Linked DNA regions of Homo sapiens: region 2 is linked to region 1. Evidence: fine-mapped expression QTL. A gene starts in region 1. The other region holds a variant in brackets. All regions are shown on one strand. Distances are between the middles of the regions. Region 1 holds the start of BCAS1 (brain enriched myelin associated protein 1). Region 2 overlaps BCAS1 (brain enriched myelin associated protein 1).

Region 1 (8,378 bases):
CTGTCGCCCAGGCTGGAGTGCAGTGGCGCCATTTCGGCTCACTGCAAGCTCCGTCTCCCGGGTTCACACCATTCTCCTGCCTCAGTCTCCCGAGTAGCTGGGACTACAGGCGCCTGCCACCACGCCCGGCTAATTTTTTGTATTTTTGGTAGAGACGGGGTTTCCCCGTGTTAGCCAGGATGGTCTCGATCTCCTGACCTCGTGATCCGCCCGCCTTGGCCTCCCAAAGTGCTGGGATTACAGGCGTGAGCCACCGGGCCCGGCCGAGGCAGGTATTTTTATTGTCCCCATTTTACAGATGCAGAACCTGAGCCCAGGGAACTTAAACTCCTCACTTAAGATCATGCTATGGATTGAAATGTGTCCTTCCAAAATTCGTGTTGGATTCGTGTTGAAGCCCTAACGTGCAATATGACTGCATTTGGAAATGTGGCCTCTAAGGAATCAAGGCTAAATGAAATCAGAAGGGTGGACCTTGATCTGATAGAATTAGTGTCATTATAAAAAGAGACACCAAAGAGCTCTCTCTGTCTCTCTCTCAACCGTGTGAGGACACAGCAAGAAGGCAGCTGTTGGCTAGCCAGAAAGAGTGGTCTCACCAGAAATGCATCGGCCAGAACCTTGATCTTGGACTTCCAGCCTCCAGAACTATGAGAAAACAAAAATGACTGTTGTTTAAGCCACCTAGTCTGTGGTGTTTTGGTTACCACAGCCCAAGCTGACTAATACAGATCATCTTCTAGTAAGTGGGAGAATGAGGACTTAACCCTCGCAAACTCAAGTCCAGAGTTTAGACTTTTAACTTTTCTATTTTCATACTTTCTACTGTCTCTTCTGCTGTATAAGTGATGTTATAGTTTTATGAAATATTTATATGTAATATAATAGAACATGGAATAGAAAATATTTCCTGCATATTCATTCTTGCAATGAGAAAATTATAACTAGGCAAGGAATATATATGGTACAATCTAAAGTGAGGATTAGGCCGGGCGCTGTGGCTCATGCCTGTAATCCCAGCAGTTTGGGAGGCTGAGGTGGGTGGATCACTTGAGGTCAGGTGTTTGAGACCATCCTGGCCAACATGGCGCAACCCTGTCTCTACTAAAAATACAAAAATTAGCCAGATGTGGAGGCACAATGCCTGTAATCCCAGCTACTTGGGAGGCTGAGGCAGGAGAATCGCTTGAACCCAGGAAGCGGAGGTTGCAGTGAGCCGAGATCACACCGCTGCACTCCAGCCTGAGCGACAGAATGAAACTCTCTCAATAAGTAAATAAATAAATCAAATAAAGTGAGGATTGAACAATTGAAGGGTCACTGATAATCACTGTAAGGATTTAGCGCCAGGGCTTGGCAGTACTCAGGTGAGTAAACGTTAGTTATTGCTAATATTATTCATTTATCTTATTATTGTTATAATTGAGTTAGTTCTGTGTTCTGATCCATGAGTGAATTGGCCTCCTGGAAGCTGCCCTCAAATCCCTCCTCTTTTACACAGTGATTGATGGTCCATGTCGCCTCCTTGTAGTTACAGATTAATAATAGGCCCTCCTCCTGGAAACAGGCCAAACGCCAAACCCCATGCAAGCTGGCCTGGAGAAAGCACTTCTGAAACTTCATCACCAGCAGGCAGCTAGACGACTGTTGAATGGGAGGGGGGGTGGTTTTGAAGGGTGGAATGGTGACAGAATTAGTCACCAAGTAAACAAGCAACACCTTCGATCAATGCAATGGAATGTAGGTAACCCAGGGGCCCTCCTCACTGCTCAGCTGAGGGTGACGCCAACATGGCCAGGCTGGCACACCCAGCAGAACCAGCCCTCTGCCCCCAACATCAGTAAAGACCTTGCAGGAGGAAAGAACAACCCCGCTTTGCCTGCCCCACAGTCCTGCAGCTCCATGTGTGTGCCCGCACAGTGCTAGGAACACGGCAGCTATTATCAGGAGTGCCAGGTACAGTGCTACAGGTTGCCTCCTGTACAAGGGGACACAGGGAACTGAAATCCAGTCCTCACTGAACTGCCCAAGCCCTGATTCCTGGTATGGGACTTTGTGGGTCCAGGGGCAGGGGTGCCTTGATCAAAATCACCTTGGATGTTTTAGGGCTGCTTGGTGATTGATGTTTTGCTTTCGGAGTACTTAATTATGTTTGCACAAACGGATGGTAATCCTAAAAATCTTAGAGCTCGCTCTCATAGTCTTATTATTGCACCAAACATTGTTAAGTGCATGATAATCGCAGGTAATTTTAATTGGAGGCTTACTATGTGCCAGGCAGCACCAGGGTGAGCATAGCAGGACACAAAATATAGGAAGGCAACCATCTCTGGTGCAGAATCGGCAGCAGAGAGTGAGCGCCTCCCTGCATTTTATCCCCCAGGTGCTCACTGGCTTCACCCTTGCCCTGACCCTGGTGCCAGGCACTTCACACACATTGTCTCCTTTTCCCTTGCAGAGTCCCATTATTCCCTGATTGCACAGATAAAGAAACCAAGGCTGAGCAATGCCATCCCCTCATCTCACGAACGTCACCTCCATGAGGGTAGGCACCTTACTAGTCCTACTTGCCCAAGAGTAGCAGTCAGAAAGCTACGGGGAGGCACACCTGGGGTTTGAACCTGGGTCCACGTGACTCAGGCACTCAAATCCTGAACTGCTTCAGGGCAGGGCACTTGGCTTGAAGAGAAGCTGCAGACACAGAGACAATCAAGTCACATCTAATACTCCAGCAGGACAGATGAGCCTGCAAGGTGCAAAGGTACCCCCGCCCCCAACCCAAAGCCTTTTTCAATTCCTCTCCCTCCACATCTCTTGTCATGGTAAAGCAGGCAGAATCCATGGGCTTTAACGGGCCCATTGCTTTTCCCAAAGCTCATGCCTTTTTCCTAAAAACAAAACCCTTCTGGGTTCCAGAACTCTTTGGAAAAAAAGAATCTTCTGTGATTTGGGACATTGGTTTGTTCCCCCACCCTCACTTAAATGAGAAACTACTTTAGCATGCCCCGCCCCGTCTGTTGTCTTTATTTAGGAGGAAGCACCCTCTACATACCCTGAGTATATACACCCAGGGCCTGAAGCTGCTGTGATCAGCTCAGGATCCCCAGGAGGCTGAGGCGGATCAGGCCCTGGACTCCGGGGGAACAATGTAAGGGACACCAAAAAGCTCAGCCATGGAGATGAATAGTATTTTAACATGAAATTTGTGAAAATCAAAATTACCGCTGTTCCTGATCTTATCTTTCTGTAACATGTTCATAGTTTGTTCATCACGGGTGTCTTGCCATTAATTCTGACTTTTAAAAATGTTGTGTTAACATACCGTTTATCTCCATGACTGAGTTTTTTGGCATCCCTTACATTTCGTGCCCAAGGTGAGAGTCTCACTGGCTGCACCCTCATCCCAGGCCCGACTGGACTCCAGTTCCACAGCATCCTTTCCATGAGACCTGGAACCAGATGCAGCTCCCTCTTCACCCAGCTTCATGTTCCTAGTTGTAAAATGGAGACGATGGTAACAGCGAAAACAAGAACCACAGCTAAGAGTTACTAAGTGCACAGGTATTTACGGGCAGTAGAGTCCTCTCAGCCCTTTGATCTCAGTACTGTTATTAGGTTCACTTTACAGATGAGGAAACTGAGGCCCAGAGGGCTGAGGGAACCTGCTCCAGGGCACCCAGCCAGCCCAGGGTGGAGCTGGGGCTGGCATCTGGCGGTGTGGCTGCAGCGCACCCGCATTCTAATCGCAATGACTCTTCCAGGCAGGAAACTGGTTCAGAGGGAGATGTAAACAGCAGGGGTCCTGAAGCCAGGATTTGAATCAGCAGCTGCCTCATAGGGTGGTCTTGAGCGTTAAATAAGATTCACAAAAGGCACTCCACAAGTCCTTTTTCTTGTCCTCCCACTTCTTTAGGCAATGCCTGAGGTGAAGGCTCAGATTCCACTCGGCTATGGGGCATTCTTGCCCTGACGGATCCCCAAATCACACAGCCTATCCCTCCATCCAGTGACTTCTCCCCATGTCCTGTGCTTGAAATGACCCTCAATAGTTCCACCAAATAGGAGTTATTTATGTGGCTATGCGCCTAACACTGACCACATTGTCATTTGCTCCTTGTAAAACTAAAAACTTTGAGATGAGTGCTATCTTTGGGTCCATTTCACAGATAGTGGAACTGAGGCTTACACATATCCAAGGCCACACAGTGAACAGAAGGCAGAGCTGGGATCAAACTTGACCCTGTCTGACCCCTGGCCTCTATATGACACCGTCTACCACAAACAGCAAACCCTCCAGCCATGCCTAAAGGATCTGAAAGCAGTTACCTGCTGAGCCCCTGTGGGAGTATCTTCAGTCCCCTCGTGTCACCCGGAGCTGCTCCTGCACAGGGTCCTGGGTCTCCAGTGCGTGCTGCCCAGTGCCTGGCTGTCGGTGGAGCCTGGCTCCCTGCACTTTGCTTCCTTGTGCAGAGCCTGCTGGCTGAATACACAGAGCAGGGCAAACACAAGCCTGGGTGGAGTCCTCCCTTCTCCCCGGACCATCCTGCAGAAACAGGTTCTCTTCCTGATGTGGGGCTGCCCTCCCAACTCCAATAAAAACTGAGCACCTGACTCCTCTCGCATTAATGCCTCCCTGGCACCCCAAGTATTCTACCCAGTGCCCCTCACCTACTGAGGCTGCCGGGTTGACCTGGGGAAGCAGTTTCCTTCCCCAGTAACCGTAGGTCATGGTCAGAGCAGGGAAAACACGTTCTGTGAGATTTTGTAGTTCTGTCTGCTGACTTCAGAACACCACCTCCACCACCACCTAACCACCTAATTGGAAGGAAATAGCTTCTCATCCACTCAACTACCCCTAGTCATGTAAACCTTATTCCCAAAGGGGTTTGGACACCAGAAATCAGGTAACCTGAGGGTGGTTTATTGCTCTGGAGACATACCATGATGTTGGAAAGGGCATTCTTTTTCTTTGCAGGCCAGAAATTCGACAGGCTATGCAATTTATTTAATTCAAGCAAGGATGTTGTTTAAAGTGTCTTACAAGGACATATACAATAGATTATGAGAGCATGAAATAACATGTAACAAAAGAAGATTGAAGAACAAAATTTGGAACATCAAATGAGAACAGGATCAAAAATAAATGCTCTTGTTGATTTACAGACTTGCTATGAAGGGTTTGCAGATATGGCTTTGAGCTTCCTAACAGCCAATGCAAGAAAGGAAACTTGATAAGTTACACTACTTAGTGCTCTGGAGAAGACATTCAAGAGAATTGCGACCAATAATTATTGTGGTTTTATTCAACAGTATACTCAGCTTAACCCCTATCATGAATACTTGTCAAGCACCAGGCTATATATATAAGCCAGAGTTTAAAGAGGTGAGTAAAAGATGCTGGGTCTCTACCCTTCTTGCACTCAGTGTCATTGGACATAGAATCCTGTAAATATAAACATAGAATTACAGGGTGTGATTCTCATTATAAAAGAAAAGCCAAGGCAGCTAAGGGAGAGAAATAGAGAGAGCTGGGGAAGGCCTCTTTCAGAAATCAACATTTAAGAAAAAAAATACTATTTAAATAAATGCTGAATACACAACCAGGCACACCGTAATTAGGGTTGTAAAGTCGATTCCAGCTCAGCACTGTACATGTCAATCTGGAATGTAGTAAACCCAATTATTAAGCAGCTGCCATGCACACGCTCTGTGCTGACCCAAGCCTGGAGGCTCAGGAGCTTGAGCTCTGGCCCTGGGTTGAGACAGACAAGGGCTCGGATCTTGATTCTTACTGATCGGCTGTGGAATTATGAGCAAGCTACTGTACTTCCCTAAGTCTCTGTCAGCCCCCTCAGCTGTGTGCTCCTTTGTGTTTATTTTGCATCTATTCTTGTATCCCCAACTCCTGGCACCCTGCAAAACGAGGATGGGGATCCCTCTATGATAGAGTAGGTACTCTGCAACTCCTGGCTGATTGGACTTGTTCATTCTTTTTTTTTTTTTTTTTAAGACGGAGTCTTGCTTTGTCATCCAGACTGGAGTGCAGTGGTGTTATCTCGGCTCACTGCAACCTCTGCCTCCCAGGTTCAAGCAATTCTGTTGCCTCAGCCTCCTAAGTAGCTGGGACTACAGGTGTGCACCACCATGCCTGGCTAATTTTTGTATTTTTAGTAGAGGTGGGGTTTCTCCATGTTGGCCAGGCTGGTCTGGAACTCCTGACCTCAAGTGATCCACCCGCCTCAGTCTCCCAAAGTGCTGGGATTATAGGCGTGAGCTAACACTCCCCATTGTCTTGCTCTCTTTTAAATTATACATGGCAGTAACTGCCATTTGGATGGCATTAGTCTTTGCAAAGCCTTTTGTGTTTATCCGTCCATTTCATTTATGTCCACAGTGAAATTAAGATCTTTTGCTCCCATTTTACAGAAGAAAAACATAAGGTTTAGGGATATGAGTGATTTAGGAGATTAAGAAAAATCATTCAGGTGGGGGCACTCAGCAGTGTGTCTGGCAAAACGTAGACCATCACCAAGCATCAGCTGGTGTAGTCAAGGGTGTTGATGAAGGATCTGGCAAACTGTAGACCATCACCAAGGATCAGCTGGTGTAGTCAGGAGTGGTGATGAAGGGTCTGGCAAACTGTAGACCATCACCAAAGATCAGCTGGTGTAGTCAGGAGTGGTGATGAAGGATCTGGCAAACTGTAGATCATCACCAAGGATCAGCTGGTGTAGTCAGGAGTGGTGATGAAGGGTCTGGCAAACTGTAGACCATCATCAAGCATCAGCTGGTGTAGTCAGGAGTGGTGATGAAGGATCTGGCAAACTGTAGATCATCACCAAGGATCAGCTGGTGTAGTCAGGAGTGGTGATGAAGGGTCTGGCAAACTGTAGACCATCACCAAGCATCAGCTGGTGTAGTCAGGAGTGGTGATGAAGGATCTGGCAAACTGTAGATCATTACCAAGGATCAGCTGGTGTAGTCAGGAGTGGTGATGAAGGGTCTGGCAAACTGTAGACCATCACCAAGCATCAGCTGGTGTAGTCAGGAGTGGTGATGAAGGGTCTGGCAAACTGTAGACCATCACCAAGCATCAGCTGGTGTAGTCAGGAGTGGTGATGAAGGGTCTGGCAAACTGTAGACCATCACCAAGCATCAGCTGGTGTAGTCAGGAGTGGTGATGAGGCAGGACCGGCTACATAATCTGCTGAACCCAGTGCAAAACAAAAACGATGAGCCCTTTGTTCTAAAAGCAGGGAAAAGTACCGTTAAAGGTATGAAACATAAAGCTGTTTTCTCTCCTTCCTGGTCTCTTTCTCTACCTGTCATGTATTTTACTTATTATTTGAAGTCATTCTAAGGGAAGAAAAAATAAAAATGTAAGTGATCAGCGTGAGTTTTGCCATCCGTCTTTAGATCAAGCCATGCTGGTTTGAAATGCAATGAACTCGAGGGCAGAATCACCAAAATCATACGACTTGTATTTTGTAGTTAGTTACGGGGCCCCCGTAGTCTGTTCTCACTAAAACAGTGTAAACGCTGCATAGAAGTCATCATTCAACTGTTTTTACTCTACCTCTGGATACTCACCCATTCTACTAATGCTCTCTATCTTCAGTTTATTGATGAATAAGGAAAAATCAAAAGAAAAAGAAACTCTAAGCTGCCCTATATTTCTGTCTTGCTATGTTATCATTTTCAGCACAAGTGGTTGGCCCTTACAGGGAGGTAACCTGGGTAAGAAAGGCTAGGATAGGATTCTTTTGTTGTTTGTGTTTCTTAGAATGTGCTGCCTTTTTTCTGTATTGAAGATAATTTCTGATTTGCGTGGAAAGCCTGGACTCTTGGGGTGTCAGTGCCTCCACATACTCAATTGCAGCTGTAACTCACATGTGTTTTACTTGCTTTGAGGCTTACTGAATAGTCATGAACTCACTGGCATTCTCTGCTCATGGGCATCATGGATGTTATATGTGAATAGGTGGCAATGAACAGTAGACTTGCATATTGCTTGTATCTCATGACTATGCTTCATTGTCTCATCAGATTTTACTTACTCAACCCAAGTTCAAAGATAACACTACAACTGACCCTTGAACCACAAGGGTTTGAACTGCATGAGTCCACTTAGACATGGATTTTTTCCCTTCTTCTGCCACCCCTGAGACAACAGGACCAACCCCTCTTCTTCCTCCTCTTCCTCAGCCTATGCAATGTGAAGATGACAAGGAAGAAAACCTTTATGATGATCCATGTCTACTTAATGAATAGTAAATATATTTTCTCTTCCTTATGATGTTTCTTAGAATGCGTTGTCTTTTTAATGTTCTTAATACCATTTTCTTTTCTCTAGCTTACTTTATTGTAAGAATGCAATA
Region 2 (8,378 bases), 28 kb before region 1:
GAAACATTGATATCTATATATTTTTGGTTTTAAATAAAAATTAGGTTATGTCATTCATTTGCATAAAACCATCCAAAGAAGGGCCTCACAAAATTAAAACAAAATCCAAACTCTCTACTATGGGCCACACCCTCCAGAACTTCAGCTCGTACTATGTTTTTCCTCACACCTCTCAACATACCAACATGTTTCCACCTGCAGCCCTCACCACTAGTTATTCTTTCAATCTGGAAATATTTTCGCTAAGATCTTCCTATGGTTACCTTCTTATCATTCAAGACTTAGGTTATGTCAGGCCTTCCCTGACTCCTCCATCTGAAGTAACCCCTCCTGCTTACTCCTGTTTATTCTCTAGACTCCACAGAGGATTCATCACTCTCTGAAATGATCCCATTAATTTCTTCTTCACTTGTTTCCTCTCCACGACCTGTAAGCCCCAAGTGGACCCGGACTTGGTCTGCTCTGCTTACAGCTGGATTCCAGTTCCCATAGTGCTAGACACTAGGATTAAGCCAGGAAACATGGGTGAAGCAGCAAGCACAGAGCTTGGGGCACAGCCTAGCAAACACTCCACAAAGGACCATGATTGTAACTGTAGTAGGGCACACCAATGAACAGGTTGGGAAACTGAGTCTCTGAGAAGAGACTAATGTTGTGCTGGATGAAATTTCTTTTTCTGACAATACATTATCCAAATCCTCCAAGCTTTCAGTTTAAAGGGGAAAGCAGGAACTATCATTATAATTTTATTTACAAAGTGTCCATGTATGAACATTATTCACCGCCGAATCATCTCTTCCTATGCAAGCAACACCGTCCTATGCATCAATATCCTGATCTGTCAGGATTCAGGATAAAGTGGACATATACACACTAATTGCAAAGGGAAATTGTACATCTTGCAAAAGATGCAGGGGTTTATAGAGTCTTGTAACATTGGTGAGCTGCTCAGATCACACACATGACCGTGGTTGGACAAGGATCTGGCAAAGTTAACACAGATCACCGAAGAAGGAAAAGTGGACAACACAACACAGTAAGTTCTTCAAAAGAGTTATATTAGAATATCAAAAGATTATGTTAGGCCTTTGGGAAAACTCAAAACTTTATGAAGACCTCAAAAAATTATGCAAAAATGACCCTTCAATGGTCATGCTGCAAGAGTCAAATGACACTTCAAACAACTGCGGCTTTCTATGTTGTGCAAATGCATTTGTTGTTTTAAAGGTCGTAAAGTCAGGGTACACGTGGCAGATACTTATGACTTGGAGGAAGACGTTAGATTAGATTTGAAACTTTCACTGAATGATCGCATTTCATGCTTTTCATCTGTACATTAAAAAGCCAGAATGTCTTTGCCAAGAAATTCTAGCATAAATAAAAGAAAAGGATGGGATTTTGGAACATCATGGTAGAATTCTTGACTATCAGCTTTATACAACATGTCTGGACATTTAGTGATGGAAATGCTGGATTCCAAAGGAATGTAGGCAAAGGTACTACTACCCCCATGCTCTTCAGAAAACATCCTCTAAAAGCAACAGTGATGATCAGATACTGTGGGGCAAGACTGACAGTGACACTCAAGATTTCCACTCTTCTCTTTAATCATATATTTCCTGTCATTCATGTGCTACAAAACTCTGGAATATGCAAAGCTCATTCAAATGCAAAACCAGCCTTTGCTCCAACATGAGCATATATTTTCATTTAAAGACAAATCAGATGTTTCATTTGATTTTTTTTATAAATCTGATAATAATGTACATTTAACCCGTGTTTACAACCAAAATAATTAATCTCTCTGAACCCTTTGTTTTTCCTGTCTCTATCCTCCACCCTCATTGCCAGATAAATAACATCTGCAACCTGATGTGGCATATTGAACTTTGTTTATACTCACACAAACACGTATAAGCATCCCAGATACACATATACAGGGACTGTATCTGTCCTTGTTGTTTTTATAGAAATTGGATCACATTAGACATATTTTCTGATGACTTTTGTACATTATAGTTGGTCTTCACAGTCAATAGCTCCAAAGCTATCTTATCTTCTAAAATAGCTGCATAATATTCCTCAGTATGGATATACCAAAAGATATTTAAACCATTGCCTAATCAATGAATATCCTGGTAGTTTCCACATTGTTTTTTCCATTTCCACTATAGTGGAATAAACTTTCGTGTTCAAAAATCCTAAACTGGTGCTATATTTCTATAGAATAGAGGCACAGATGTAGAAGTGTTACCCTCAAATCAATATGCATTTAGTTTTGAAAAACAGACACTGCCATATTATTTTCTTAAAAAGGCTCTACAGATTCACATTTCCAGCAGCAATGAGTGTCTCAAGCACCTTTTAAGTGGTAAGCAGCTTACCAGGGGAGGTGGCCTATTATTCTATCAGTGGCTTCAGTTGTTAGGACACCACGGGTCAGCTGTGGAGATACGGTTGTGGGGCAGGTTGAGTTCAGGACACATAGAAGATTGCCAAAGGGTGACTATTATTACTTTGAGACTCTGGAAAAATTAGCCAGGAAACAGAGACAAGAGGCTCAGGGTGCAGCAAAGCAGCCAAATCAGGATGATAGTGTTTTCTTTGGAGCAGATATACTAATGGCCAAGGAACTCATAAAAAGATGCCTAATGTCATCTCATTAGGGAAGTGCAGTCAAAGCCACAGCATGATACGTCTTCACACCCACGAGGATGGCCATAATCAGAGAGACAATAACCAGTGGTAGGGAAGATGTGAAAAAATCGGAATGCTCATGCATTGCTGGTAGGAATGTGACATGGTGCAGCTGCTTTGGAAAGCAGTTTAACAGTTCCTGGAAAAGTTAAACATGGAGTTACCCTAAGACCCAGCAATTCCATTCCTAGGTAAGCAAGAAAATGAAAACATATGGCCACACAAAAACTTGTACACAAATGTCCATAGCAGCATTTTCATAATAGCTGAAAAGTGGAAACAACCCAAATATCCATCAATTGGAAAAAGGAAATCTAGCATTTGCATATAATAGAGTATTAATCAGCCATAAGAAGAAACAAAGCACCGATCCATGTTATATCATGCTTTATACTTGGAAGCATGGTACTAAGTGAAAGACGCCAGACACAAAAAGCAAAATATTGTATGATTCCATTTATATAAAGTGTCTAGAATAGGCAAATCCATAGAGGCAGAAAACAGATTAGTGGTTGCCAGTGGCTGGGAATAGGGAAAAAACTCAGCGCTAAAGGGTAGGGAGTTTTGTTTTGGAGTAATGACGATGTTCTGGAATTAGACGTGGAACGATTGCACACATGGTGCAAATATCCTTAAAATCACGGAATTGTCACTCTAAAAGGTGAATTTTATGGTAGGTGAATTGTACCTCAATTTGTAAAAAGAAGAATTAGATAAATAAACAGCAACACAGCACCAAGGGGTGGGGGTAGGAAACAGACAACAAATAGGAGTGAAGAGTTCACAGGAAAAGACATGCAGCCAGCTTTTAAGCAGAAGAAAAGATGTTTGGCCTCATAAATAGTAAAATAAAAGCACAATAAAATTATGACACTTGGCTTTCCCTTGCCAAATTGGTTAAAAAGGAGACAATTGATGACCCCAGTGGAAAGCGTATAAAAAAAGAGCAGCTGTGGCTGGGTACGGTGGCTTAACGCCTGTAATCCTAGCACTTTGGGAGGCCGAGGTGGGCAAATCATGAGGTAAGGAGTTCAAGACCAGCCTGGCCAACATGGTGAAACACTGTCTCTGCTAAAAAACAAAACAAAACAAAACACCAAAAAATAGCTGGGCGTAGTGGCGGGCGCCTGTAATCTCAGCTACTTGGGAGGCGGTGGCAGGAGAATCATTTGAACCTGGGAGGCAGAGGTTGCAGTGAGCCGAGATTGTGCCACTGCACTCTAACCTGGGCAACAGAGTTCAGAGTGAGACTCTGTCTCCCCCAAAAAAAAAAAAAAAAAAAAAAGAACAGCCATATAGATCGTCGGTGGGAGTGTAATTTGGCCACTTCTTTGGAAAATAGCTCAGTAATATCTATTAATACTTAAAATTTCACAAACACTGTAAGTCTAACTTCCACTTCTAAAATGTTATCCTAGAAATAAAATTGCATAGGGGTACAAAGGCTTACGTATGGAACTATTTGCTGGACTACTGTAGTTGTGGCAAAAAACTGGAAATGACCTAAACGCTTATTAGTAGAAACCTGGTTAAATAAATTATCATATGTCCTTGAGGACACAGGGACACAAAGAGGGGAATGACAGGCACTGAGCCTACTTGAGGGTGGGAGGAGGAAGTCGATCAGAAAAAATAACTAGTGGGTACTAGGCTTAGTACCCGGGTGAAAAAATAATCTGTACAACAAACCCCCATGACATGAGTTTACCTTATAACAAACCTGCACATGTAATCTGAACCTAGATAAAAGTTTAAAAAAATAAATAATCATATGTCCCTACAATGAAATATTCCACAGGCATTAAAATTCCCCAAGGAATTTTAGTAAGGAAAGAAAAAGCTGTGCCCAACAGCACGTACAGTATGTTTCCATTTGTTTTTAAAAAATGGTGTCGGGAGGTTGAGGAGACAACTTATAAATAGACATGCCTGGGATACCTCTGGATATAAGAAACTGTAAAGTATTTACTTCTAAGGAAGGAAATTTGGGATGGGGCTTGGGGAGCCATCAGAGTTAGGGTGGGGATTTTTTCTCTGCCTTATCTTATTATGTATATCGCTCAGAATGTTTGCTATGTGTATGCACCTACCCCATCCATTAAGAAATGAAGAAATAATGAAAAGAAAAAATGAAAGTAGGGAACTAGAAATGAGAGGTGGGATTCAAAGTGGACTGAACACTTGACCTATTTCCCAATTTGCCTAGGGCTGGCCCAGCAGCGAGGCAGGTTCTAACCAATGAGCATCAGCTTTGAATGGAGGGGCTGATAGG[C/A]CAGGTGGGCCCTGCTTGCTGAGAGTGTCATGGCCTTAGGGACATCTCCATGTTGCAGAGTCTGAGCCTCTGCTTGGCAAATTCAGAAAATCCAGCTTTTCTTTTTATATCACCTGGAGCTGATGTAACTCTCAGAAGGCATTTTTAAGAGGACTCATGAATTAACCACATAGCCAACTTACTGGCTTAAGACTACGTGACAGAAAGCTGCAAAGGGGGCCAGCCACTGGTAACATCCCACCACTGTCCCTCTCTGTGGAAAACACAGATGGGATGCACATTGTGACGGGCAGGATGCCTGGAGAGCCCACAAATCTGCAAGCACAGCTGAAATTGGTTACAGGATTTCAATGTTTCATTGCTTGAAGCTATGATAACTTGATGATGATGATGATGATGATGATGATGATGACGATGATTTTTTTTATAGCCATCTTTTTAGAGGGATTTGAGGTAGGGAAAAAAATAAACCTCACACTATCGGAGGTTGCCAACTATGAGGTCTGCTGATGGTTTGGCCAACACAGTGTTTATATTTTTTTGAATTGGGAAATTTCATTTAAAAGTCCTAAAATCAGGCTGTTATTGAAATATCTTATTATTGGCTCAGGGTTTCCCAGGGCAGCCATCCTTGAAGCTGTGTGGAGCCCTATAAACAAGGACGCTTTCCAGTTCCCTGCAAACTCCATTTCATTCAGAGCCTTGAGCCAGTTCTTACATGGTCCTCAGACTTGAGCTAGTGCAAGAATACCCGGGAGGGGTTGTGGGAACAGATAGCTGGGCCCCACCCCCAGGGAAGGGGGTGTTTCTGACTCAGGAGGTCTGGGCTCCGGCTACAGAAACTGCACATCTAACCGGTACCCAGGTGATGTGATGCTGCTGGCCCAGGGACAACTCTGCGAGTCACTGCTATTGGGCACTGCTATTGCACCCACACAAGGAGGCAGGCTCTGCTTACATTTTTCAGTTCTTGTTCCCAGAAACATTTGCTCTTTGGGGTATGCTTTGCATATAATGGATCCTACCCACTAATACAGTATGCTGCTTTTATTGATAAACTTCCAGAAACTTGAAGCGCACCTTACCATTTCTTTGATCTCGCTGATTATTTTTATTTTTGTTAAATGAAAATTGTTGGTAAGTTCTTTTTGGTGTGGTAAAAGGATATGAAAAGCTGATTTTAAAAAAATGTCCACTCTAGGATTAGAATTGTAGGTGTGTTTATTCTATTTCAAGATCTGGTTAAAATGCACCTTGAGGAAAAGAATTGAGTGCAGCTGTTGTTATTTCTCAATGCTGTTTCTCTTTTCATGTTTTTTTCATGTTGTCTCTTGGTCTGTCCTATCTCTCTTGGTCTATCCTCCAAGACAGAGATGAGTGATCTTGAAACCCTGCCCATGTTTTTATCTTTGGAGCCCAACTGTGCTGCCTTGTTTTCTTCTCCATCCAAAGAGGCAAAGAGAAAGTTGCATATTACTCAACAGCAGTTGCATGACAGTTAAAATCAGACTGTATGAGTCATGGAACAGTAAGTTGTGTCCAGAGTATCTGTCATGGTAAGTACAAAAAAGTCCTTAAAAATTTAAAACAGAAATGCCAATGTTTTATTTTTGAAAAATGTGAAGAAGAAATTTTCCGGCCGGGCGCGGTGGCTCATGCCTATAATCCCAGCACTTTGGGAGGCCAAGGTGGGCAGATCACCTGAGGTCAGGAGTTTGAGACCAGCCTGGCCAACACAGTGCAACCCCATCTCTACTAAAAATACAAAAATTAGCCAGATGCGGTGGCACGCGCCTGTAATCTCAGCTACTAGGGAGGCTGAGGCATGACAATCGCTTGAACCCAGGAGGCGGAGGTTGCAGTGAGCTGAGATCATACCACTGCACTCCAGCTTGGGCAGCGGAAGGAGACTCTGTCTCAAAAAAAAAAAGAAAAAAAGAAATTTTCTAAGTGTATTCCAAATAACTTTTAATATTGGATAAACATTACGAGTTTAAAAATACTTATGCCAGAGGAGTGCTGTGACTCGTGCCTCTAATCCCAGCAATGTGGGAGGCCAAGGAGGGACAGTCACTTGAGCCCAGGAGTTTGAGACCAGCCTGGATAACAAAGGGAGACCTCATCTTTACAAAAAAACTAAAAAATTAGCCAGGTGTGGTGGTGTGTGCCTGTGATCCCAGCTACACAGGAGGCTGAGGCAAGAGGATTCCTTGAGCCCTGGAGGTCAAGGCTGCAGTGAGTGATGATCATGCCATTGCACTCCAGCTGGGTGACAGAGCAAGACCTCATCTCAAAAAAAAAAAAAAAACAAAACAAAACAAAAAACTTACGCCCAGGTAAAAATTGTCAGAGAAAAATAAGAAAAAAACTGAATGCCCAAAATTAGCATAATGGCTGAATGAATTATAGTATGTCTATACCTTGAAGTACATTGTAGCTTTAAAAAAAATGAATTAAAGTTATACCAGTTGAATTTGGAGTTGAGATGGGGAAGATTATTACAATTAAAAAAAAACAAACACTATTAATGGATGTGCTGGGAAATGTCTGTATGGGGCTAGTTAAAGTAAATTAAAATAAAGACCAGACCTGAAGAATCCCTGAGCGGACAAAGCCTGTTAGACCACATAAATGAGCTAAACCTTGCTTGATTTGCAGACATAAGCAAAACAACTCGAACTGTTTCTTGTAAATGCCTATGCTAAAGAAAAACAGAACTTGAGCTCAACCAATCAGAAACAGTCAACAAACTTAAAATTATATAACTGGGTACCTTCCAATGAGATGATCAAATAAGGCAACTGTGTAATTGTAACACATCAAACACATTTTATATTATGCCTCTGCATTTTCCCTTAATTCTGGCATGTAATGCTTTGTCATCAAAACACTAATTCCCTTTTGGTTTTCTTTTCTCAAATTAATGAATTGCCTCTATTCAGATACACTCTTTGAAATTTTATTGTGTCTCAGATTTGTCTTTTACAAAGTATAGAACAAAGAGAAAAATATGAAAGAAGAAATATTAGGTTGTTAGCTTGGGTGTCCTTGGAGGGGGTAGGGAAGATGTGAGATGAGGAAGAAGCCAATAAGAAAAAGAAAAAGACAGGTTTCACCAAAACAACAATAACAGAAAATATGATTGCATTTATTCATATATGTTAATTGGTATGTATGTAAGTATATATGCATGTAAAAATAAAATACAAAGAATTAAAATGCATACTAATAGTTATTTCAGTTATCTATGGCTGTGTAACAAGCATCCCCAAAATGATTGACTTAACCACCATTTTATTAGGTCATGATTCCATGCATTAAGAATTCAGGGCCGGGTGCGGTGGCTCATGCCTGTAATCCCAGCACTTTGGGAGGCCAAGGTGGGTGGATCACGAGGTCAGGAGTTTGA

The links. PIP is the estimated chance that this variant, and not a neighbour inherited with it, causes the effect.
Region 2: its variant is fine-mapped to the expression of BCAS1 in whole blood (TOPMed, PIP 0.94).

Annotation. Positions count from the first base shown.
Region 1 is chr20:54,066,107-54,074,484 of GRCh38, forward strand. BCAS1 (brain enriched myelin associated protein 1) reads right to left here and starts at 4,488. Exons shown (of 13, transcript NM_001366298.2): 1 at 4,327-4,488. It overlaps MIR4756 (microRNA 4756), which reads right to left and starts at 2,379; the gene lies at 2,302-2,379. RefSeq lists an enhancer at 3,207-4,081.
Region 2 is chr20:54,037,950-54,046,327 of GRCh38, forward strand. All of the region lies in intron 3 of BCAS1 (brain enriched myelin associated protein 1), which reads right to left. Among named protein-coding and RNA genes, the nearest start is that of MIR4756, 26 kb to the right of the region's middle. The variant C/A (reference allele first, on the strand shown) is at 4,970.